Linked DNA regions of Homo sapiens. The protein of the gene in region 4 purifies or fractionates together with the protein of the main gene of each other region. This does not show direct contact. Each region holds a gene or a part of one and is shown on either strand. Other genes may lie near its edges. The genes, in order: XBP1, KLHL22, SSBP1, NFYC, PON3, CORO1C and PON1.

Region 1 (3,510 bases), on a different chromosome or scaffold from region 4:
ACCTCAGGTGATCCACCTGCCTTGGCCTCCCAAAGTGTTAGGATTACAAGTGTGAGCCACCGAGCCTGGCCAAGATAGTTTAAAAAAAAAATTATATCTACATTAAAGCCACAAGTCACCCTTTGCTGAAGTCAGTATTAGTAGTTGGAAGCAGTGTGTTATTCTTGACCCCATGAAGTGGCACTTATTAAGTAGCTTGCTTTTCCATAATTATGGCCTAGCTTTTTAAAACCTACTATGAACACCACAAGCATAGAGTTTTCCAAAAGTTCAAGAAGGAAAGGAAACCAATTATACTGAATCAGGTAGATTCTTAACTGAAATAATTAGATGTTTTAATAGCCTCTTATGAACTTTCTTCCAGAACCAAAAACTTTTGCTAGAAAATCAGCTTTTACGAGAGAAAACTCATGGCCTTGTAGTTGAGAACCAGGAGTTAAGACAGCGCTTGGGGATGGATGCCCTGGTTGCTGAAGAGGAGGCGGAAGCCAAGGTAAATCATCTCCTTTATTTGGTGCCTCATGTGAGTACTGGTTCCAAGTGACATGACCCAGCGATTATGTTTACAGTCTGGACTTCTGATCAAGAGCGTTCTTGAAATTTTCCTTCAGTTTTAAGACATTTTCATGCAGGCAGAGTGTTCTTCCCCTAAAGGCACTTGACACTCATTTTTTAAGTGTGTAGTGAACAGTACTAAGATCTAATAATGAAAACAAGTTACATGGCTCCCTAAGAACAAGTACTAACAAATGCAGTAGCCAACAAGATTACCATGCAATCATTAAGGAGAACCAAAGTAAGAGAGCCACTCAAACCAGATTTTGAACGCTACTAAAATTAAAGTAGTTCTTTGATGAATATGAATGAGTAGGGAAAGGATTCTTTGTAATAGTGATACCTCTGTGGTAAGAGAAGGGTGGTATGTGAGTTTTAGTCTACAGATTATGGCAAATTCAGTGACAACAATCAAATGGTCTAAGATTGACAGTAGCACAGTTTTACTCTGTGAAGGTAATGTTCAGGACAAATTTCAAGAAAACTAGAAAACCATTCTTTACAGCTGAAATCTTTCCCTAACCATTGTTATTTCCACTTTTAAGTCCTCAAGAGATGAGAAAAGGGAGGTAAGGCTTCCTTATACATTTCCTGCACAATGAAACATTTTTCCTCCTCCAGGCAAAGATTCAAGCAGAACTGGCAAATATCTTATCTTGCTCTTCTCAATAATAATAATGTTGTTAGATAATAAAGTTCTATAGCAATTTAACCCTAGAATCTTTTTGAAAAGTAATTCTTTAAAGTTGAGAATCACAGCTGTCTAGCAAGCATTTCCTTGGGCACTTGAAGCTGTTTATTCACTTTGGTCTTTCCTCCCAGGGGAATGAAGTGAGGCCAGTGGCCGGGTCTGCTGAGTCCGCAGCACTCAGACTACGTGCACCTCTGCAGCAGGTGCAGGCCCAGTTGTCACCCCTCCAGAACATCTCCCCATGGATTCTGGCGGTATTGACTCTTCAGATTCAGAGGTAGGGATCATTCTGACTTATTAAAGAGCTATATAACCAGTTAATTCCATCTGTTTGATGCTTGACATCCCTAACTAGACAGATGAGGGTTGAAGTTAGTTTTTGGTGGGGTTGGAGGTGAACATCAACTACCTTCCTAGTTCCAGGTAATATAGAACATGGAGTGAAGTGTAGATAAATGGGTCTGGTGGGTCCCGAGGTCATCTTATCACATAATGACTAATTTACATTATGGAACCCAGTACAAAGTGTTCCAGTTAGATTTTCCATTGTATTCTGACAGTTGTACTTCATTTAATTTTTGCCTCTTACAGTCTGATATCCTGTTGGGCATTCTGGACAACTTGGACCCAGTCATGTTCTTCAAATGCCCTTCCCCAGAGCCTGCCAGCCTGGAGGAGCTCCCAGAGGTCTACCCAGAAGGACCCAGTTCCTTACCAGCCTCCCTTTCTCTGTCAGTGGGGACGTCATCAGCCAAGCTGGAAGCCATTAATGAACTAATTCGTTTTGACCACATATATACCAAGCCCCTAGTCTTAGAGATACCCTCTGAGACAGAGAGCCAAGCTAATGTGGTAGTGAAAATCGAGGAAGCACCTCTCAGCCCCTCAGAGAATGATCACCCTGAATTCATTGTCTCAGTGAAGGAAGAACCTGTAGAAGATGACCTCGTTCCGGAGCTGGGTATCTCAAATCTGCTTTCATCCAGCCACTGCCCAAAGCCATCTTCCTGCCTACTGGATGCTTACAGTGACTGTGGATACGGGGGTTCCCTTTCCCCATTCAGTGACATGTCCTCTCTGCTTGGTGTAAACCATTCTTGGGAGGACACTTTTGCCAATGAACTCTTTCCCCAGCTGATTAGTGTCTAAGGAATGATCCAATACTGTTGCCCTTTTCCTTGACTATTACACTGCCTGGAGGATAGCAGAGAAGCCTGTCTGTACTTCATTCAAAAAGCCAAAATAGAGAGTATACAGTCCTAGAGAATTCCTCTATTTGTTCAGATCTCATAGATGACCCCCAGGTATTGTCTTTTGACATCCAGCAGTCCAAGGTATTGAGACATATTACTGGAAGTAAGAAATATTACTATAATTGAGAACTACAGCTTTTAAGATTGTACTTTTATCTTAAAAGGGTGGTAGTTTTCCCTAAAATACTTATTATGTAAGGGTCATTAGACAAATGTCTTGAAGTAGACATGGAATTTATGAATGGTTCTTTATCATTTCTCTTCCCCCTTTTTGGCATCCTGGCTTGCCTCCAGTTTTAGGTCCTTTAGTTTGCTTCTGTAAGCAACGGGAACACCTGCTGAGGGGGCTCTTTCCCTCATGTATACTTCAAGTAAGATCAAGAATCTTTTGTGAAATTATAGAAATTTACTATGTAAATGCTTGATGGAATTTTTTCCTGCTAGTGTAGCTTCTGAAAGGTGCTTTCTCCATTTATTTAAAACTACCCATGCAATTAAAAGGTACAATGCAGCATCCTTGTTTGATTTCTTCTAGGGCCGTAAGTCTTGTTTTCTCTCCAGATGTTTATCTGTGTGCTGTGGTAGGAATTAATCCAACTGAAGTGAGCCTAACGCTTTTTAAAGTGACTGAAGGCTTTTCCACCTTAATTACTGCCTGCTTTAATTCTGGACTGCCATAAGTGATATAAGCTATAATTTGAGCAGTTACTGTCTTTCTGAGACAGATTCTTGAGCCTAACTGACCAATATCACAGCTAGTAAGTGGAAGAGCTAGAACCCTAACCACTATTTGCTACACCATCTTATAAATGTTAAACAAGGACACACCATCACATATCGAGATTCTCTTGCCCTTATTATGGGAATTAAGAGCATTTTCTAGACTGAAACTCCCTATTTTCAACTCTGCCACTGGTAAGCTGGGTAACCCAGGGGTTATATATAATCACTTATTTCCTCATCTGTAAAGTTGGATAATGGTATCTCTAAAGGTTAAGATTCAAAGAGACG
Region 2 (3,500 bases), on a different chromosome or scaffold from region 4:
CACTCACACCCAGCAGGCCAACAGAAGGCCCCAAGGCAAGGCCCTGGGTGTTTTGAGGGTAGAGGAGCCCCTCAGGGTGTGGAGGCTCCAGAGCTATGTTACTGGGCAAGTCACTAACACTGAGGCCATGCGGGTGGCAAAAACACAAGAGTCTAGAGAGGTGGACGGAGCAGTGGGGAGGAAGAACACACACCAAGGGTTTGGTTTGGGTCTTCTCCTATCACCAGTAGGGGTCTGGGGAGGTTTTTCTTTTTTTTTTTTTTTTTGAGACGGAGTCTCGCTCTGTCACCAGGCCGGAGTGCAGTGGCACGATCTCGGCTCACTGCAATCTCCGCCTCCCGGGTTCGAATGATTCTCCTGCCTCAGCTTCCCGAGTAGCTGGGATTATAGGCGCCCGCCACCATACCCAGCTAACTTTTGTATTTTTAATAGAGACAGGGTTTCACCATGTTGGCCAGGATGGTCTCGATCTCCTGACCTCGTGACCCACCTGCCTCGGCCTTCCAAAGTGCTAGGATTATAGGCATGAGCCACCACGCCCAGCCGAGGTTTTTCTTTTTAATTAAACTTTTCATTTTGAGATAAGTGTAGTCACGTGTAGTTGGAAGTAAAAATACAGAGGTCTCACGTGCCTTCTTTCCCCCATGGTAGGAGCCTGTGTCACTATATCACAGGGTCACCAGGATGCTGACGTGGACACAGCCACAGAACTGTCCTATCACCACCAGGATCCCGAGGGGCTGCCCTTTAGGGTGACATCCACTCACCTCCCTTACCCTAATCCCTTCCTTAAGCCCTGGAAACCACCAATCTCTTCTCTATTTCTACAGTTTTGTAACTTCAAGAGTGTTGTCTGAATTAAATCAGTATACAACCTTTTGACATTGGCTTTCTACCCCAACCCAGGTTCTACCAGGTTGTTGCATGTACAGGTTGAGTACCTCCAAAATCTGAGACTTTTTGAGCACAAACACGGCACTCAAAGGAAATGCATTTCAGACTTTTGGATAAGAAATGCTGAACCAGTAACTATAATGCAAAGATTCCAAAATCTGAAAAAATCTGAAATCCAAAACACTTCTGGTCCCCAGCATTTCAGATAAAGGGTACTCAACATGTACCAATAGTTGGTTCCTTTTCTATTGCTCAGTAGTATTCCATGGGTATCTACCACAGCTTGTTTAACCATTCACTGTTGAAAACACCTGATTTGTTTCCAGTTTCTGGCTATTACCAATAAAGCTACTATTAACATTCATGTACAGATAAGTTATTTTTTATTTTTTTGAGACAGGGTCTTGGTCTATTGCCCATGCTGGAATATAGTGGCACAATCTTGGCTCACTGCAACCTCTGCCTCCCGGGTTCAAGCAATTCTTGTGCCTCAGCCTCCGGAGTAGCTGGGATTACAGGCACGCATCACCATGCCTGGCTAACGTATACAGAGTAGTTTTCATTTCTCTGGGATAAATACCCAGGATGGTAACTGCCAGATCTGTTTTCCAGAGTGGCTGTACCATTTCACATTCCTATCAGCAATCCATGAGCATAGTTTCCCTGCACAGTCACCAGTATTTCGTATTTTCACTACTTTTTATTTTAGTCATCCTGAGGTAGTTCTCTCACTGTGGCTTTAATTTGCATTTCCCTGATAGCTAATAATGTTACATATCTCCTTATATGCTTATTTGCCATCTATACATCCTCTTCAGTGAAATGTTTCTTCAACTCTTTTGCCTTCTGTTTTTTGTTTTGTTTTGTTTTGTTTTGTTTGTTTTTTTTTGAGACAGAGTCTTGCCGTGTCGCCCAGGCTGGAGTGCAGTGGCACAATCTCAGCTCACTGCACCCTCTGCCTCCTGGGTTCACACCATTCTCCTGCCTCAGCCTCCCAAGTAGCTGGGACTATAGACGTCCGCCACCACATCCAGCTAATTTTTTGTATTTTTAGTAGAGATGGGGTTTCACCGTGTTAGCCAGGATGGTCTCAATCTCCTGACCTCGTGATCCACCCACCTTGGCCTCCCAAAGTGCTGGGATTACAGGTGTGAGCCACCGTGCCCGGCTTCTTTTGCCCTCTTTTTAATGGGGTTATTTGCAGTATTTTGCCAAGGTTTTTTGTTTTTGAGATGGAGTCTCACTCTGTCGCCCAGGCTGGAGTGCAAAGGCACGGTCTCGGCTCACTGCAACCTCTGCCTCCCAGGTTCAAGCAATTCTCCTGCCTCAGCCTCCCAAGTAGCTGGGATTACAGGCGTGTGCCACCGCGCCCAACTAATTTTTGTAGTTTTAGTAGAGATGGGGTTTCACCATGTTGGCCAGGCTGGTCTCTGGTCTCGAACTCCTGACCTCGTGATCCGCTCACTTCAGCCTTTCAAAGTGCTGGGATTACAGGTGTGAGCCACCACACCTGGCCGTTTATTGAGTTTTAAGAGTTGTTTATATATGTATTTATTTAATACTAGTCCTTTGTCAGATAGGTGGTTTGCAAATATTTTTTAATTTTGATGAAGTCCAGCTTATCAATTTTTCTTTTTATGGCTCATGCTTTTGGGGTCAAGTCTAAGAATTCCTTGCCTAGCCCTAGCTAGATCCTCAAGATTTTCTTCTGGTCATCACGTCGCGTGGCCGCAGGGAGCAGACCCGGACAGCTCCAGAGCCTCCGGGCCGGGGCGGCGGCGGCGACGCTTCGGCTCCTCCTGAGCCACCTGCTGGACCCGCACCCCACTCCATCCCCACAGGCTGGGGACAGGCCCTGGCGCGGCTGTGTGGGATCAGAAGCAGAGTTGCAGAATCCAAGGACCTATTTTTGTTCTTTCTCCGCACTGCTTTATGGGAGGCATTATGGCCCCCAAAGACATAATGACAAATACTCATGCTAAATCAATCCTCAGTTCAATGAACTCCGTTGGGAAGAGCAATACCTTCTGTGATGTGACATTGAGTAGAGCAGAAAGACTTTCCTGCCCATGAGATTGTGCTGGCTGCCTGTAGTGATTACTTCTGTGCCATGTTCACTAGTGACCTTTATAGAAGGGGAAACCCTATGTTGACATCCAAGGTTTGACTGCCTCTACCATGGAAATTTTATTGGACTTTGTGTACACGGAAACAGTACATGTGACATGGAGAATGTACAGGAACTGCTTCCTGCAGCCTGTCTGCTTCAGTTGAAAGGTGTGAAACAAGCCTGCTGTGAGTTCTTAGAAAGTCAGTTGGACCCTTCTAATTGCCTGGGTATTAGGGATTTTGCTGAAACCCACAATTGTGTTGACCTGACACAAGCAGCTGAGGTTTTTAGCCAGAAGAATTTTCCTGAAGTGGTACAGCATGAAGAGTTCATTCTTCTGAGGCAAGGAGAGGTGGAAAAGCTAATCAAGTGCGATGAAATTCAGGTGGATCCTGAAGAACCAGTCTTTGAGGCTGTCATCAGTTGGGTGAAGCATGCCAAGAAAGAGCAGAAAGACTCCTTGCCCAGCCTGCTACAGTATATGCAGATGCCCCTG
Region 3 (3,982 bases), on a different chromosome or scaffold from region 4:
TTTATGAAGTGTTTAGTGGGTACAATAATGTCCTAGACCTTCATGTTGGGCCACCACTCACTCATTTACTCACCCACAGCAACTTCCAGTTCCGCAAGCTCCATTCATGGTAAGCGCCCCATACAGGTGTGCCATTTTTATCTTTTATACCGCATTTGTACTGTACCTTTTCCATGTTTACATATGTTTAGACACACAGATACTTACCATGAATTACAATGGTCTGCGGTATTCAGTACAGCCCCATGCTGTCAGGTTTGCAGCCTGGAAGCAGCAGGCCACACCACAGAGCCGAGGTGTGTCCAGGCTCCACCATCTAGGTCGTCAAAGTACATTCTGTGGTGTTCGTACAGCAACAAAATCGCCTAATGACGCAATCCTCAGACCTTACCCTGTTGTTAAGGTACACATGACTCTTATTTTGTTCCTCCCGGATTTCCTGCATTAATTTTTACTTTTTAAAATATTACATTAATATATTATTTGATTGCCAGTTTTTCTGGTGCTCCCTTAAATTGCACAGCCTGCCAGCCCTTCCCTGGCTCCCCTTTCTTTTTCTGCTTTTCTTAGTGCTTCAACAGACCTGGGACGTTCTTTTTCTTTCTTTTTTTTTTTAATTTTCTTCTTTTTTTCTTTTTCTTGTTTTGTTTTGTTTTGTTTTGAGATAGAGTTCGCTCTGTTGCCCAGGCTGGAATGCAGTGGTGCGTTCACGGCTCAATGCAGCAACGACCTCCAGGGCTCAGGCGATCCCCCGACCTCAGCCTCCGGAGAAGCTTGGACCACAGGCGCGCGCCACCACGCCCAGCTAATTATATATTTTTTGTAGAGACAGGTCTCACTATGTCGCCTAGGCTGGTCACAAATGTTGCTTTTTTTTCCCTCCAGGCAGAGCTAGTCTCTGTTTTGCCTACCTCGCCCCCTCCTGGGCCCAGTTAGAAACCTCATCACATAATTTCATTTCTTTCCAAACTTGAAACCTTCTAAACTTGAAACCTTCTAAACTTGAAACCTTCCAAACTCACCACTTGGCGGCGTTGATCCATCCGCCCGCGCACAAAGAGAAGATCGCGGAACTTCAGAGTTAAGGGGAGCCGTTTCCCGCAGCGCTAGCCGGCAGTATTTCCAAGGCGCAAGTTGCGGAGTTTCTGTTTCCTTTTTCCTCTGGCGAGCTTTGCGTTCCCTGTGCGCCGGAAGTGATCCCCTGCGTGGCTGGGCTGCTCGGGTTAGATCGTCAGGTGAGGGAGGAAGGGATAGCCAGCGCGAAGGAAGTGCTGGAGTCGTGTGTTTTGGCTGCGCGTGATCCTGCGTGGGTCGGGAGGTGTTTCTGTGTAGGTGTCTGGCCCTTTCATCAGTCGTGCGGAGGACCGCGTGATTTCCTTCCAGTTCTCCTCGGTTTTCAGGTGGTGGCGCCATCTTCGGTAAAGGGTGTCCACCTCTCCCTATGGTGTGGCTGGCTAGCCCGGGGGTCTCTACGCTGCTTGGTCTTTGTTAACGGAGATGAAGGCAGTAATTTTTCAGTAACAGGTTTCAGATATAAGTCCCTTGGTGATGCTAATATTTATGGAGGCCTTACTATGCATTAAGAACTTTTTTAGAAGTTTAGAAAATGGCAGTGAATAAAGCAGATACAAATCTCTGCTCTAAGGGAGCTTGCATAGTAATGAAATTTGAGAAGACAGTGGATTGGAAGTGGGATTAACTCAGAATCAAAATTTTGTCGATGGGTTGGAGGAAGAGGAAGTTATTTGGGACCAAAAAGACATACAGGTGTGAGTTTATTTGGGAGGGAGGAAGGAATCCTCATCAGATGTGCAGGAATGTTGGTACGTTGTGGTCACAAAATTGGAGTGCATAAAAATTATGAATATAGTTAGGAATTTAGGACTGGTGAGTTGTACTTTTGCCATAAGAGGTAATGTTTTTTTCTTATTTTGTTTTTTTCCTTCAGGAAAAGCCTAAAGATTAGACTGTAAGAAAAGAAAATAGAAGCCATGTTTCGAAGACCTGTATTACAGGTAGTCACTTGTCTGTATTAATACTGAGATGTATTACTATCAGCCACAGTGATCAGAAGACTTCTTTAGGCTTTTAACTACAGGGGCAAAAGACCTTTGAGCTCACCCACCCACCTCTATACTCATTTGATATGGAGGATTGGGGACGATTTTGCCAGTGTAAATTATGTTCACTAAAACAAAAAAAAAGTTCAGGTTTATTCACACGTAATAGGAATCATTAATTTTTAAAATGTGTGTGTGTTGCTTGAATTTAACCAGTGAGAGGACATTAAAGGTCTTTAGTGACCTAAAGACTGTAGGAATCATTGTTCCAACTTTTTTCTTAAGGCATGTAGTTGCTTTTTTGACCATCTACCTCCTGTGTTGCTAAACGTTCCTCTTCCCCCATCTTTCCACACTGAAGAGAGCATCTCAAGTCTCAGTGGTCACCAGAGATTTCACTATGTAGAAAATGCCTTCTCATTCCACTTAGTATGGGTCCTCACTTTTCCAGACACTAGCCCACCTTGAGCCAGCTTAGACTACCATTTTTCCTCACTTACCACATTCGGGCACCAGCTCCTGTAGATTCTTCTTTGGCTCTCCTACTCCCCATCCTCCTGTGAAGACCAATGAAGAACCAGTTCCTCCATGACTCTGTCATTTTCCCCACCTTAATCCTATATTCTTGGATCCCCACTTTAACCTGTATGTATCTTTAATCTATTTTTTTCTGTATTGAAATGTGAAACATGAAAAAGTTATTGCTTCTTAACACTAACGTTACAGTATTAAAATGTCTTTAAATAAGAGTTAAAAGTTTAATTTAAAAAATTATCCAAGTTAAATAATCCTTTCCTAATCTTCTCCAGTAGATTTTTGTGTGCCCCAAATGAGACATTGTTATTATAAATCTCTGTGTAAGATTTATGAGGTCTAGCTTGTCTGAGCACTCAAATGACATTTCCAGAATCATGACACAGGTTCTCATTAGCAGTTTGATTCTATAGTATGTTGTACTCATATCTTTATTTTCTTATCTGCCCTCTGCTCCTAAGTTTAGTGATAGGATTAGATAGCCAACAGCACCCTGGGGATTGGTGTTTATTTGATTGGTGGACTTCTGCTTTTTATATTAACAGTACTGCCACTTCAAAAATGTTTCTCTGATAGAATGGCTAGCTCTCTGAGCTCTGAATTCAGTGATGTGTACTCCCATCTTTACAGGAGCTCTTGAAATTAAGGAGGCAGCAGAGGGCTTCGGGAAAGCAGTAGCATTGGTGTCAAGGGCCCTGGGTCCTTGAGATCACTTGCCACATACTTCCTGCAGGAGCTTGGGCAGGTGATGCAGTCTCTCTGAGGTGTTTTCTCAGCCCTAAATGGGAATAATTTTACATAACTTGTAGATTTAGTTTTAGAATTGATAATAGATAAATCCCTTAGCTGATATTCAGTAATGATTGCTGCTATTATGTGGTAGTGACTACCTTTGCTGACAGTGATGTGACTTTGACTTGGACAGTCGAGTCTTTGTGTTTAATCAAAGAACCAAATTTATTAGACCTTTTTTGATGCACTAAAAACAGGAAATTTCCTATGAAATATTTATAAAAACTGTATTAGGCTAAGCTCACTACTGAAGCTGTTTAATTTTTGCAATAGCCTTGTGAAGTAGGTATTATGTATCATAATTTTTGCTTATTTTAAAATGAAACACTTTAGATTAGTCATATTAGGTATCCTAATTCCTTTTAAGGTCTGAAGGAGCAACCAGGGGAAGGCAGTTTCATAGACACAGGGAATCTGACTTTGGAATATGTTCCTGTTGCTGTGTCAGAAAGTCATTCATGTGATTAGTTTTAGAATGTATTGTTTTGTTGGAATGTAACCTATCTCTCGTTCTCTAAACCAGCAGACCCCAACCTTTTTGGCACTGATAACTGGTTTCATGGAAGACAATTTTTCCATGGAGGAGGGGGGTGCCG
Region 4 (3,500 bases):
AAAAGAAGGCGCTCATAATGTCCCTCTATGTTGTGCTGACGAAAAAAAAAAAAAAACAGATATTGCTTGGGGCTGTGTTTCATGAGAGCACTGTTAGAGGCCATCCTAAGCTTTTTCTAAAGCCCATTAATTCTTTGAAGACCTGCATATGTTAAGTAAAGAAGAATTTTGCTCTGGAGCTTGTATTTTCTTCATTTCATCTGTACCTTCTCTCCCGACATACGCTTCCTGAAGAGAGGGACCAAGCCAGAGTGTTTCCTACTGCCTGTCATGCTTTGCCACACTGTTGATTGTCCCCACCATTTATGCATCTCTTGTTGTTCATTTCAGAAAGACTTCCGAGTGCAGGAACTCCCACTGGCTCGTATTAAGAAGATTATGAAACTGGATGAAGATGTGAAGGTGAATTCACATTCATTTTTATTATTTCTTATTGAAGCTAAGTGATGGGTAGGTTATTGCTCATTTCTCTAGAGCTCAAAGTTTAATTAAACAAGAACACACAAAAATTACTGTCTGTTGCTTTGTTATTTGGTTCCTGTGCAAAATTGTTAAGTGAGCCAAAATTGAGCAGTTTTGGTTACTATATGGATCATCCTGAAAATTTTTTAGATGTTGAAAAAATAGTTGATGTTGGGTTTTTTTTTTTTTTTTGAGAGTTTTACTCTGTTATCCAGGCCGCAGTGCAGTGGTGCGAGCTTAGCTCACTGCAACCTCTGCCTCCCAGGTTCAGGCAATTCCCATGCCTCAGACTCCCGAGTAGCTAGGATTACAGGCGCCCGCCACCACACCTAGCTAATTTTTGTATTTTTTGTAGAGACAGGGTTTCACCATGTTGGCCAGGCTGGTCTTGAACTCCCGACCTCAGGTGATATGCCTGCCTCTGCCTCCCAAAGTGCTGGGATTACAGGTGTGAGCCACCGCATCTGGCCTTTTCTTTCTTTTTGAGACAGGGTCTCACTCTGTCACCCAGGCTGGAGGGCAATGGCATAATCACGGCTCACTGTAGCCTTCACCTCCCAGGCTTAAGTGATCTTCCCACCTCAGCCTCCCAAGTAGCTGGGACTACAGGCACGTGCCATCATGTCTGGCTTAATTTTTAATGTTTTTTTGGAGTGGGGGACAGGATCTCACCATGTTGTCCAGGCTAGTCACGAACTCCTGGGCTCAAGCAGTCCTCCAGCCTCAGCCTCCCAAAGTGCTAGGATTAGGCATGAGCCACCATGCCCAGCTGGTATCTCACAGTTCTGTTCACAGTGTAGTATATACATGTATCATCAAATCAACAGGACAGTGCCATCATCTTAGCGTCTTACATAGTTTGTTGATCTGAACTCTTAAGAAATTTTTGATAATGATATTCTACCTGTTCTAACCTTTTGATCTATGAGTTTCTTTTACATGAATAATACTTGTGAGAGGGTTTGCGTGGGCTTGGCCATTTCTGTATTCCTAGGAGTCCATCTCCATTACAGATCTCAGAGAAAGAGGAACTCTGTCTCTTTACCACTCAAAATTAATAGTCTTTTGTATTTTCACAGAAAGCTAACAATTGATAGTAATTTTCCCTTTTATTAGCTCCTTTCTTCCTCACAGTAGCCCTGTGAGATTTGATATAATAAGAATTATCAGTTCCATTTTACAGACAATGGAAATAGACACAAAGAGGTTAAGTGACTCACCCAGAGTGATAGGACCAAGATCCCATTTCCCATCTGCTGCTTCTTTAACTCCAGAGCTCTTTCTGTGGCTGTATCCTGCACAGACTACCTCACCAAAGGTTTAGAACCTTGTTTGACCAAGAGCTTCAACTTTGAAATCAGACACATCAAGAAAGTTTATATGGCTTGAGCATTTCCTATATGCCAAGCCCTGGGCTGGGTACATATATTATCTCATTTGATTGCCACAATAAAACTGAAAGGTTATCCTCTTTTTCAGTACATGAAAAAGCCCAAAAGGATGGGAAGCCTGCAATTTTATCCAAATCCATTGGCTTTCAAGCTCATTCTCCTTCCTCATATTGTTTCTCCTTGGATTAGAACCTAAACCCTGCCACTTACTGGCTCTATGGCTGTGGGCAAGTCACTTCATCTCTCTTGACCCCTAGTTTCTTTGAAAGGCTATTATAAGAGTAAGAAAACACCTTGCACAAGGTTTGGCGCATGGTATGTGCTAGATAAGTATTCTTTCTCCCTGTTACCTGCTTTGTTCCCACTCATGGATTTATTTTACCTTGGAATCTCTTGAGTATACCACCTCATTTTTTGACCCTTGCCCCATAGTCCCATGCCAGGCAATGAGGCAAGAGACAGACTGGTTTGCATGACTTGCTGGTGATTGACAGGGAGGGCCTGTGTCTGTTACAGATGATCAGTGCAGAAGCGCCTGTACTCTTTGCCAAGGCAGCCCAGATTTTTATCACAGAGTTGACTCTTCGAGCCTGGATTCACACAGAAGATAACAAGCGCCGGACTCTACAGGTATTATTGCAGACTTAGATTAGGAAAACTGGGGTAAGCAGCAGCCTTTGCCTGTTTTCCTGCGTGGTGTTGGAGAAAGATTGTTCTCCTTTAGGACCAAAGATTGTTCTCCTTTAGGACCAAAGATTGTTCTCCTTTAGGCCTCTATCAAGCTGACGTGTCATTGGCATCACCACTGTTGGGAGGCAGACATACCTTCTAGCCATGGTGATTGTGTTTCTCCACCAAAAATCTTAATCAATTCTCTCCTGGTTTTCACAGCTTAGTGACTGAACTCTTTTCCCTTGGTGAGCCCTCACTATAAACAGAGGCTCAAGTGATAAGAGTATTTACCTGTTTCCAAACGTAATCAACTTCTGGTTGGGAGCCTTGAGAGATTCCAGGAAGTATCATCAGTCTCACTAGCTTCATTAGGCTTTTTGTTCCTTGTCAGCCTTCCTGGGAGTCCTTTTCTTTTTCTTCTTCTTTTTTTTTTAATTTTAATTTTTAACCTAGCGAATTCACATTCATACTGTATGCAGAGCCCTTGGTCATTGACTCTAGAAACCCTCACCCTATAGCCAAGCCCTGGCTCTTAGAGGAAAGATTTCCCAGATACAAGAAGAAGAGTGTAACAAGTATAAAACAGTGGTGGCAGTATTTTAACAATGAAGCCAAGAAAGTAAATTATTTTCTCTTCTTGTTTCCCTTTACCTACAAAGTAGAAAATGCATGTGTTTATTCATTTATTCTAAAAATACTTACTGAACACCCACAATGTGCCGGGCACTTTTCTAGGCTCTGGGGATTAACGATACACACAACAGACAAAAATCCTTATCTGTGGGAAGCCTGCATTCTAGTACAGCTTGTCAATGCGTCATAAAGTTAGGATTTGTGTACATTACTATATGAAAGTTTTAAAGCAAAAAAAGCAAAAAATACTGAGCTCCAATAAATGATATGCATGTTGAAGTCACAAAATTTATGTTGCCTTGAAGTTAGTCTGTGGATCCAGAGAGATCCAGTTAAAGCTCC
Region 5 (3,500 bases), on a different chromosome or scaffold from region 4:
TGTATATGTGTGCACACTTGTTCTTTATTTTTAAAAGGGATTAAAATATCCAGGCATGCCAAACTTTGCGCCAGATGAACCAGGAAAAATCTTCTTGATGGATCTGAATGAACAAAACCCAAGGGCACAAGCGCTAGAAATCAGTGGTGGATTTGACAAAGAATTATTTAATCCACATGGGATCAGTATTTTCATCGACAAAGGTAAAACCTGTATGTTTAGGGATAAGGGGGAAATGAGGGAAATAGAAACCATTTATCTCCAGCCCCTCAATATTTATGTAACAGGAAGAGAGAAGATGCTATTTTACCATACAGATGTGTTTTTTTTAAATGATAAATAGGTATAAAACCTTGTAAACATTGCATTAAAGAAGGAACACTAGTATTTTTGGCCCTATGTGGCCTCCTCCTCTTCCTTCTATCCACTTGTCTTCTTGTTTGACTGTCACAACCTGTTTGAATACTGTTCTCAGAAATCTAACATGTAAACTAAAGGCCCTTTAGTTTAGTTGTCACTAAAGACAACTGTGAGACGTTAAAAAACATAACATAAGGGGGAAAAAAACAAATTAGACTCATCAAAGTTAAAAGCTTTTGTGCTTCAAAAGACACCATCAAGAAAGTGAAAAACAACCCAAAGAATGAGAGATAGTATTTGTAAATCATATATTAGATGAGAGACTTGTATTCAGACAATATAAATAATTCTTACAACTTAACAAAACACAAATAATGTAATTTAAAAATGGACAAAGTATCTACCTAGATAGACATTTCTCCTAAGATACACAAAGGCCTGTAAGCACATGAAAGATGTTTATCATCCTTAGACATTAGGAAACTACAAATCAAAACCAGAATGAGATACCATTTCACACCCACTAGGATGGTGATAATTAAAAAGACAGACAATAACAAATGTTGGCAAGGATGTAGAAAAATTGGAACCCTCATACTTTGCCAGTGGGATTGTGAAATAATGTAACCACTTTGGGAAGGAGTTTTGCATTTCCTCAACATGTTAAACATAGAGTTACCACACAATCCAGCAACTCTGCACCTTGGTGTATGCTCAAGAGAATTGAAAACCTATCCATGCAAAAACCCATATACAAATGTTCATAGCAGCATTACTCCTAATACAAAAGGTGGAAATAACCCAAATGTCTATCAACTGATGCATTCATAAACAAAATGTGATAGGTATTTATACAATAGAACACTATTTGGCAATAAAAAGAAATGAACTACTCATGCATGCTATAATATGGATGAAGCTTGTAAATATTATGCCAACTGAAGGAATTTAGTCACTAAAAGCCACACATTATGTGATTCCATTTATATGAAGTGTCCAGAATAGGTGAATTCACAGACAGAAAAATTGTTGGCAGGAGCCAGGGGAGTGGGGAAGGAGGAATGACAGCTAATGAGTAGGTGATTTCTTTTTGGGTGATGAAAATGTTCTGGAACTAAATAGTGGTTATGGTTGCACAATTCTGTGAATATACTAAAACCCACTGAAGTTTACATTTTAAAAGTCTGAATTCAGTGGTGTGTGAATTATATCTCAAAAATATATTATAAAAACATAAGTTATCAATATACCATATATGCTTTAAAAACAATAGTTTCCAATATTATTTTTGACTTGTTCACAGTTCATAATTTCAAACATTTAATTTTAAAATATTTTTGGGTCTATACAGCATGAAGAAAATTAAGAACAGGGAAACTTCACTAACAGTAACCACATGAAAGGAGGACCAAATTGAAGTGCTAGAATTCCATGAAATCTTATATACACTTTTATTTGCTTAGCAAGCTCTGCTTTAAAAGATAATTGAATCTAACAATTTTTCATTGGTTTATAGTATACAAACTATTTTCATATATAATGGTGTCTTTACTTCTCGAAATAAAATCCTGGGCCCAACCTTGACACTTCCTCTCCCTGGCCCTTTTGATCAACTCATTATAATGTTTTGTTTAATGTATCTCTCCAATATCTCTCCAGTCTGAAATATCTGTCCATCTCTCCCCATCCTCACTGCTACCAGCAGTTCAAGGCCCCAGCATGCCTTCCCTGATTCTGCATGGGCCCCCAACTGTACCTTCCTTCTCATACCACCTCAATTCATTGTCATAGTAAGGATTTCTTTTTATGCAAATCTGATTATGTCCCTCTTTTCATCAAATTTTTCATATTGTTCTGTCACTCTGAGGATAAACCCCAAATCTCCAGAACGGCCTGGGTTCCTGGGTGCTTCCCCTGTACCTTCTGGCACCTGTATGCTCTCCAGTTTCACTGGAAACCATTCTCCTCCAGACTCTCTGGACCAGCCATACTGGATTTCTTTTCATTCAGTGAAGTGTCTCATGCCTCAGGATCTTTACATCTGCTGTTCCCTCTGCCTGGAATGTCCGTCTGCCACTTCTGGCTCACTCTTTGTCATCATTGAAGACTCAGCTTAAATATCATCTTCTCAGGGAAGCCTGCCCACCATCTTGTTCCAATTTGTGTACCTTTCTATATTTCTTCTCAATGTACCTCTTTTTTAAAATCATTCATTACGGTGGTAACTAATTTTTTTTTTATGAGATGAAGTTTTGCTCGTCTCCCAAGCTGGAGTGCAGTGGCACAATCTAAGCTCACTGCAACCCCTGCCTCCCGGGTTCAAGCAATTCTCATGCCTCAGCCTCCCAAGTAGCTGGGATTACAGGCATGCGCCACCATGCCCGGCTAATTTTTTGTATTTTTAGTAGAGACAGGGTTTCACCATGTTGGCCAGGCTGGTCTCGAACTTCTGACCTCAGGTGATCCACCTGCCTTGGCCTCCCAAAGTGTTAGGATTACAGGTGTAAGCCACCACTCCCAGCCTACAGTAGTAACTTTTTTTTTTAAATGTTAAAGGATAGGAATTTTCTTTCCCTCTCCTGCTCTTGCTCTATAGCAAGTTCCTAAACTTAACTGTTACTCTTCAAATGAATGACACTCTATGAAGAACGTGTCTCCCCACTCTAGTATTCTTTGTTTTAATTTATTTAATAATTTTTCCTCCTTGTTTTCCTCTCTCAAATATAATCACCATAAAAGCATATTGATTTGTCCATTGCTGGATTCTGAGAGTCTAGAACAGTATCTGATGCACAGTAGGTACTCTATGAACACATATCAAATGAATAAATAAACGAACCCTATAGGACAGGCAGAGCACATAGTAATATTCAACTTTATAGATGGATACAATGAAGTTTAGAGGAATGCAGTGAAGTGTGACTTCACTTCTGCAATTAGTAAATGGCTGATCCAGAACTCAGACAGAGGAGGTCTCACTTCTAATCCTGTGTCTTTTACTAAAATGAGATTAGGACTCTATTTAAATAATTTTAAAACTGCAACTGTTTTGCCTCACACTGTACAAGACATAAGATTCTGCATTGGAGATGGTATAATAAGTGATTAGATTTACCTGAAACTATTTCATTGCATGGGAT
Region 6 (3,500 bases), on a different chromosome or scaffold from region 4:
AAAAAAATAAAATAGGGTAGGCGCAGTGGCCATTCCTGTAATCCCAGCACTTTGGGAGGCTGAGGTGGCTGGATCACTTGAGGCTGGGAGTTGGAGACCAGCCTGGCCAACATGGTGAAACTCTGTGTCTACTAAAAATACAAAAATTAGCCACGGGTGGTGGCATGTGCCTATCTATAATCCCAGCTCTTGCCAGGCTGAGGCAGGAAAATCGCTTGAACTTGGGAGGCGGAGATTGCAGTGAGCCGAGATAGCACTACTGCACTCCAGCCTGGGCGACAGAGGGAGACTCAGTCTTTAAAAAAAAAAAAAAGAAAAAGAAAACAGTAACAAAGGAGAAGGGCTTTCTCATCATTGTCATGAAATCACGCTGATGTATGCGCGCATTATGTTGTCAAATCAGTGAAATTTTGTGAGTTGGATCTCATTTAGCATCCCTGTTGCTGTTTCCATGTATGAGTATTGTATGTGCATAGTTCAAACTTCTGTTATTCTAGGAAAATGGCTCGCTTAATTGGGATAGAAGAATATATAATAAGGTTATAAAAATTTATTTTTAAAAAAATGTATACATACACATATATGTATTATTATTATCTTCCCCCCAGAAAAATATGCAGGAACCAATTGCTCTTCATGAGATGGACACTAGCAATGGGGTGTTGCTGCCTTTCTATGACCCTGACACCAGCATCATTTACTTATGTGGAAAGGTAAACAGTAATTTTGATGTTTGGTGTTAAATCCTGTAAGTGGAAACATTTATCCTTCAGAGATTTAGAGGACGGGCAATGTGTTGTATCTGTTTAATTTTTCTAATTTGTGTGTGTATGTTATAAGCCAAGGACAGATAATTTGGTATTTTTAGGTCTTGAGACTGGACTGTGTGCAGCTTGCCAGTTGTGCAGTGATAACACGCCATGTTGCATACTTTTGACTGAAGCAGAGGTTGGGCTGGGGTATTGGGGAAAATGCTCCAATCAGGGCGCTCTTGTGAAAAAAAGAAGATACACTGGTGTTTCATCTTCACCTAGCAGTGCTACCTGATTGGTGATTTTAGATTTATCTGTACTTATGTCAGGGATGGGCAACCAGTTGGCCACATCTAATGCTGAAATTTGTTGGATAACCCTAGATGAGCATGTGTATACTTAGTACCACACACCATGGACTTGGAAGGAGAATGGTGCTTTGTGGATGCAAACTTTTGAGGGCCTCAGAGACTCTCCAGAGGGTTCTTGTTCCTGGGGTTCAGTGCTAGGGCTCTGGGCTTGAAGATATGAGGCCTGACTAAAGCTCAGGGGTGATAACAGTTATAGGGAGACTCCACACTGAACTCCAAAAACCTTCCTCCTGCCTTATGAGCTCAGCATACCTAGACTGTGGGTAGCTTTATTATTTCATTTTTGTAAGTGGGAACCTTATAGTTCCCTTTTTTTTCTTGTAGGCTCAATTTCCCTTAGAACTTTTTGTAGTTGAAATAAATGAATTAATAACAGTGGAGCTGTTGAGGTAGTCCCTAGACCTGTTAGATAGCCCTTCACTGGGTGGTAAAGCTGGTGTTTGCTTTTCATAGCTGATTGAGCATGCTGCAGACCTGCTTTACATTTTTATAGGTCATTGTTTTAGAAATGGAGATCTTGTCTGTTTCCTTGAAAGCCATTTTACTGCAGATGTTAACAGGTGTTAAGTGCATTTACCTTGCTGTTGTTGCCCTTGACTGAATTAAAACAAACAAAATGAGCAGTTACTCAGATATTAGTAACATGAGATGGAAAATTCTTTTGGGCATGCAGAAATGACTAGTAAGGGTTTAGCTTCTTTTCCATTGCTTTAGATATCTCAGTCATTGAGACAAATGGAAATCATGAGAACTGGGAGCACTGTTGAGGCATGATACCACCTAGCTATTTTTGCCTTCTTCTTTCTTACATATATGTATATCTCCTCTCTGCCAGACAAGATTGCCGTCATTGTTCAGGTTGGTGTAACTGTGTGACAATTATTTGTACTTAGACTAACATATGCTTCAGTACTCAAAGATATCTGACTATTCTAAGCAAGAAAGTAGTAGAATTGTACACATTGCCATGAGATGGCACTTTCTGAGGATACTCACTAAAACTGAGTTTCTTCATTAGAAAAATCTCACTTTTTATCATCATACTGGCATAACAGCATTGCGTTATGCCAGTAAATGAATACTTAAATCAATAATTGCATTCTCAGCAGTCCTCTTAGTCTTTGTTTGTTTGTTTGTTTTTCACAGTTGAATTGCAATGTAGCTGTTTGGCAGAGGCATTAACATTTTTGCCCTAACCCTGGCCTGGTGCCTAGGCTCAGGGGAGTAAAATTAGAGCCAGGAGCCAGGAGGCTGAGGAGACCACTTAAAAGGCATGCTAGCATTTGATAAGTAAGGGGTTACTTTGTGAGGAAAAGAAACTTTTATATGCTTTAGGCAAGCCTCTTTATGAGGAAGAAAAGGTCAGCTACTGAAGCGGGGTCCCAACTACTGCTGGGTTTGTAGAGGAGAGAGACACCCCCATAATCCAGATGTTTCAGTTAACAATCAGACACAGACTTGTCTCTGGTTTCTTACAGGGTGACAGCAGTATTCGCTATTTTGAGATCACGGATGAATCCCCGTACGTCCACTACCTCAACACATTCAGCAGCAAGGAGCCTCAGAGAGGGATGGGTTACATGCCCAAGAGGGGACTTGATGTTAACAAATGTGAGATTGCCAGGTAAAGAATCGAGATTGTCAAGTATTCTAGGTTGGTGTAACTGTGTGACAATTATTTGTACTTGGACTAGCATATACTTCAGATCTCAAAAATATCTGACCATTCTGAGCAAGAAAGTAGTAGAATTGTACACATTGCCATGAGATGGCACTTTCTAAGGATATCACTAAAACTGAGTTTCTTCATTAGAAAAAAATCTCAAAAAAAAAAAAAAAAGAAAAGAAAAAAATCTCACTTTTTTTTTTTTGAGACGGAGTCTGGCTCTGTTGCCCAGGCAGGAGTGCAGTGGTGTGATCTCAGCTCACTGCAACCTCCGCCTCCCTGGTTCAAGCAATTCTCCTGCCTTAGCCTTCCAAGTAGCTGGGATTACAGGCGCCCACCACCACACCCGGCACATCTCACTTTTTATCATCACCTGAATGCCTGGTGATACCAGAGCAATACAGCTACAAGAAATTCTATGAAGCCCAAGTCTTTCTATCCTTGTGTGTACTGTGGAATTAATACCTCATTTCCTGCCCATATAACTGAAGTGCAACAATGAAGCAGCATAGCTGGGGTGTATTGCACACCTACTGAAATAGTGAAACATGCATCTTTAATCTTCAAGCTGAGGCCATGGTCAGCGTTCCCTGGTGGGCAAGTAGGGAGAGCCTGGCTCGGGGATGGAAAAGTGGGTGGTTTTCCTACCCTATGAGTGGAAGAACCAGAGTCAAAACTGTATTTGGGGCCCCACTGGTCCTAAAATAGAGA
Region 7 (3,500 bases), on a different chromosome or scaffold from region 4:
CTGAGGAGATGGCAGAAGAGGGGAGGGAGAGCCAGATAAAGCATTGAATAAAGGTAACTTTTTTTTAGAAAGGCTCTGACAGGACTTTGCAATTACCACAAGGCTTCTCCTTATGCATCTCTCTTTTGATATTGGACAGGAAAATTTTTTCCAGAAGCTCTCAGCAGATTTCCCCTTAGATCTTATTTGTCAGAGCTGGAGGACAGGCTGGTGCCCTAGTTGCAAAGGATGCTGGGAAAGTAATTATCAAGCCTCCAATGTGGGAGGCAGGCCCTGTCAGCAAAGATAAAACGGTAGGAGAATAGCAGCTGGGAGGCAACCAACAAGGAGAGTCCCCGGGCTCAACTCTCCAGCTGGTTCCAACCAACCAGCTTTGTTATTTGAAGACAATTGGTTTGAGATCATGCTTTTGTGTGCTTTGGGTGTTTCTTTTTCTTTCTTTTTTTTTTTTTTTTTTTTGTTCTTTTAGAATTATTCATCTCAGTTGATTAAGGCTCAGGAGGCTAGATCAGATGACTTAGTACCACTAAATTTCACTAGATATCTTATGGTGCGATTGTTTTCTAGAAAAATATGATATTGATATCAAATATCACTGGGTTTTTGAAAAGCAAACTTTCCACTAAGTGTAGAAATACCTATCAAATAGTTCATTTTTCTCTAGATAAATTGAAATGTTAAAAATTTACATGTACTTAAAGTATAACTAACTTGAAGACAGTAATATTTAACCGATGTTTATAATTAGTAGTAAAAATTCATATTCTTGATCACCTAAAATGTATCCCCATTTTAACTCAACTATTTGGAATTTGCTTATATCTTCAATATGGCTTTCCAAGGGTTTAATTGATTTGGAAGTATTAAGTATCAACATATATTTGTAATTTACCTTGTATCTTTAGAAAACAAGTTCTTTTCAAATAATCATGGCTTTTGTACGTTTTGTGAATTTCCATGAACTTTAAGAGGATTCAGTCTTTGAGGAAAAAGCTCTAGTCCATCAATTTAAAACAAATATACTAAGTGTAAATTTTAATTAAACTTGTTAATGAATTAATATATTTTTAATTTCCATATAATCGCATTCATCAATTTGAATAAATGAAAGAATGAATTATTCTGAACCTATTAAAGAAGAGTGATGTATAGCCCCAGTTTCAAGTGAGGTGTGATAAAGAAATGGATCCACATCCTGCAATAATATGAAACAACCTGTACTTTCTGTTCTCTTTTCTGGCAGAAACTGGCTCTGAAGACTTGGAGATACTGCCTAATGGACTGGCTTTCATTAGCTCTGTGAGTGTTTTCTTTCACTTTTCTGTGTTCTAGAACGTTTTCTAGGACTGGCAGTTTAAGTCTTTCACTTAGGCTTTCTGTATACCCATGCCCACTTTCAAATAAAATGAACAGTCATGGTTTAAAAGACAAATTGTGTATGCATTTACACTTGTGCTATAATTATGATCATGCGTGTTCTATGCATATTTGTGTTCTTCGGTCTACATTGAACCATATTACGTTAGCTTCTATTGCAGCAATTTTTTTGTGAGTTCAGTGTATTCAAGAATTGTTTTCCTCTCAATTGTCTATTCCCTAAGCACTTAAAATTGCCATATTCAAATATTTGCTAAATTAAATATACATTTAATGTATACTACTTCACAGGTCATTTCAACTTTCACATTTTTAAACAAATTTCAGAATAAGCCCTTTAATTTAAAATTGTTGATAGGTCCCAATTCCCAATTCCCAAGCTTTGAAGACAGAATCCACCATATTTGCTGAAACTGTCCTGCATATAGATCGCTATGGTAGCTGATATAGTGCAAAACAAAAGAAGTCCACCATCTGGCCTAGGGATCATAACATAACAGAGTTGATAGGAAACGACAGACAATCATCCAGCCATTTAAAAACCTTTGCTACCCCTTGTAATTTACTTAGTCCAGTTTTCTCTTACAAAGATGATAGACTAGTCATCCTGCAAAGCAATGTCTTGCAAACTTTCTTGAGCAACATAAGGTGTATTTCAAGCAAAATCTTATATGGGAACACAATATATAAAACAACAGCTTTATTGTTTTGATTGAAGGCTAAGAAAGGAGTAGTTCCTCTGGCCCACCAAAACTCTGTCTTTGAGATGCTTCCAAGGACCTACCAGGGAACAGTTTAAAAGCCATAAGCAATATTCTCTCTGTATTCCTTGCTTATATCATTGAAGACTATTATTAATTGCCTTTTTGGTCTGCTCTTCCATTTTTGATCTTTCTCATGGGCTGGAAGCTGTAGTGTCGTGCACATATGACTTTGCTGCAGGGGATGAAAGGGTTTGTGTGGGGTGGCCTAGTGGAGCATGTGGCTTCCAGAAGACTTCTCCTGGGGACCCATTACAGAAGCTAACTAAGAGGCTTCCTATGTGGCCATCTGGCTAGCCCTGTGGTTTGGAGCAGTCAACATGAACCCATGGGCCATGCAGCGCCTCTATTAGCATTTGAAGTACTGGTATTGTGCTTGATTTTTCTCCTCCATGGTTTATAAGGGATTAAAGTATCCTGGAATAAAGAGCTTCAACCCCAACAGTCCTGGAAAAATACTTCTGATGGACCTGAATGAAGAAGATCCAACAGTGTTGGAATTGGGGATCACTGGAAGTAAATTTGATGTATCTTCATTTAACCCTCATGGGATTAGCACATTCACAGATGAAGGTAACAATATTTACTATTTATTAAAACCAAAACCAAACTTAAAACAAAAACAGAAAAACATGCCAATAAATGAATTATTTTTTCTCATTCAAACAAAGCATAGTCATGAATAATGTTCTTACTCTGGGTTTTAAACTTACCCTCTATGTTAATTGAACTTTATAGTAAAACCACTTAAATACTTGAGAATGCTAAAATATTTAAGATTTGTAAAGCATCTAATTTTGTAAAATACTAACATTCACATTATCCCTATAATTACCATAATAATAATATCCAGCCCTGATCATTATAGCTTTTCCATTTTAAACGATTTTCAAGACTCGGGCATTTACAGGAACAGATTTTTCTAACCCAAGGCATCTGTAAGCTATAGGTCCAGTGACAGAAAGTCACCATGGTCAGCTTTCTGCCGGTCCCATTATCTTCAATGCCTCCTGTCCGCTGGTTCCTCTGTTCTGTGTTCAAAATGCTCCTCTGCATGTTGGTCCCTTTCAACATAACTTGGTGTCATCCTTTATGTCTTTACTCCCTTTCTCCCTTTCCATTTGCTGTCACTTCCTTGTCTCTGTATTAATTTTCAGCCCCAGTTGCACAATGGTAGCACCTGAAGAGTTTAAAAAGACTCGATGCCCAGCCCCCAGCTTGACAGATTCCAATTCCGTTAGTCTGAGGGAGGCCTGGATCACAGTAGTTGTTAAAAGTTTTTCAGTTGATAAAAATGTCAGGCTAGGGTTAAGAACCACGTTTATACCCATTACCTCCATTTCATCATCAGACGATCCCTCA

The links.
Region 1: the proteins of NFYC (region 4) and XBP1 purify together in Homo sapiens (affinity purification with western blotting, with the first as the bait; one study listed by BioGRID). This does not show direct contact.
Region 2: the proteins of NFYC (region 4) and KLHL22 purify together in Homo sapiens (co-immunoprecipitation; one large-scale study listed by IntAct). This does not show direct contact.
Region 3: the proteins of NFYC (region 4) and SSBP1 purify together in Homo sapiens (affinity purification with mass spectrometry; one large-scale study listed by BioGRID and IntAct). This does not show direct contact.
Region 5: the proteins of NFYC (region 4) and PON3 purify together in Homo sapiens (affinity purification with mass spectrometry; 2 studies listed by BioGRID and IntAct, with this or other methods). This does not show direct contact.
Region 6: the proteins of NFYC (region 4) and CORO1C fractionate together in Homo sapiens (co-fractionation; one large-scale study listed by BioGRID). This does not show direct contact.
Region 7: the proteins of NFYC (region 4) and PON1 purify together in Homo sapiens (affinity purification with mass spectrometry; 2 studies listed by BioGRID and IntAct, with this or other methods). This does not show direct contact.

Annotation. Positions count from the first base shown.
Region 1 is NC_000022.11:28,794,060-28,797,569, reverse strand, and holds the end of XBP1 (X-box-binding protein 1), read left to right. Parts: intron 1-364; coding exon 365-493; intron 494-1,377; coding exon 1,378-1,416; coding exon of another isoform or gene 1,417-1,442; coding exon 1,443-1,523; intron 1,524-1,837; coding exon 1,838-2,395; 3' UTR 2,396-3,010; downstream 3,011-3,510. UniProt on the Homo sapiens protein: Functions as a transcription factor during endoplasmic reticulum (ER) stress by regulating the unfolded protein response (UPR).
Region 2 is NC_000022.11:20,447,296-20,450,795, forward strand, and holds part of KLHL22 (kelch-like protein 22), read right to left. Parts: intron 1-3,500. UniProt on the Homo sapiens protein: Substrate-specific adapter of a BCR (BTB-CUL3-RBX1) E3 ubiquitin ligase complex required for chromosome alignment and localization of PLK1 at kinetochores.
Region 3 is NC_000007.14:141,737,176-141,741,157, forward strand, and holds the start of SSBP1 (single-stranded DNA-binding protein, mitochondrial precursor), read left to right. Parts: upstream 1-1,182; 5' UTR 1,183-1,235; exon of another isoform or gene 1,236-1,418; intron 1,419-1,431; exon of another isoform or gene 1,432-1,823; intron 1,824-1,948; 5' UTR 1,949-1,991; coding exon 1,992-2,015; intron 2,016-3,982.
Region 4 is NC_000001.11:40,747,204-40,750,703, forward strand, and holds part of NFYC (nuclear transcription factor Y subunit gamma), read left to right. Parts: intron 1-330; coding exon 331-402; intron 403-2,369; coding exon 2,370-2,483; intron 2,484-3,500. UniProt on the Homo sapiens protein: Component of the sequence-specific heterotrimeric transcription factor (NF-Y) which specifically recognizes a 5'-CCAAT-3' box motif found in the promoters of its target genes.
Region 5 is NC_000007.14:95,368,876-95,372,375, reverse strand, and holds part of PON3 (serum paraoxonase/lactonase 3), read left to right. Parts: intron 1-37; coding exon 38-203; intron 204-3,500. UniProt on the Homo sapiens protein: Has low activity towards the organophosphate paraxon and aromatic carboxylic acid esters. Rapidly hydrolyzes lactones such as statin prodrugs (e.g. lovastatin).
Region 6 is NC_000012.12:108,651,519-108,655,018, reverse strand, and holds part of CORO1C (coronin-1C), read left to right. Parts: intron 1-608; coding exon 609-713; intron 714-2,601; coding exon 2,602-2,747; intron 2,748-3,500. UniProt on the Homo sapiens protein: Plays a role in directed cell migration by regulating the activation and subcellular location of RAC1. Increases the presence of activated RAC1 at the leading edge of migrating cells.
Region 7 is NC_000007.14:95,314,533-95,318,032, reverse strand, and holds part of PON1 (serum paraoxonase/arylesterase 1), read left to right. Parts: intron 1-1,243; coding exon 1,244-1,299; intron 1,300-2,542; coding exon 2,543-2,711; intron 2,712-3,500. UniProt on the Homo sapiens protein: Hydrolyzes the toxic metabolites of a variety of organophosphorus insecticides. Capable of hydrolyzing a broad spectrum of organophosphate substrates and lactones, and a number of aromatic carboxylic acid esters.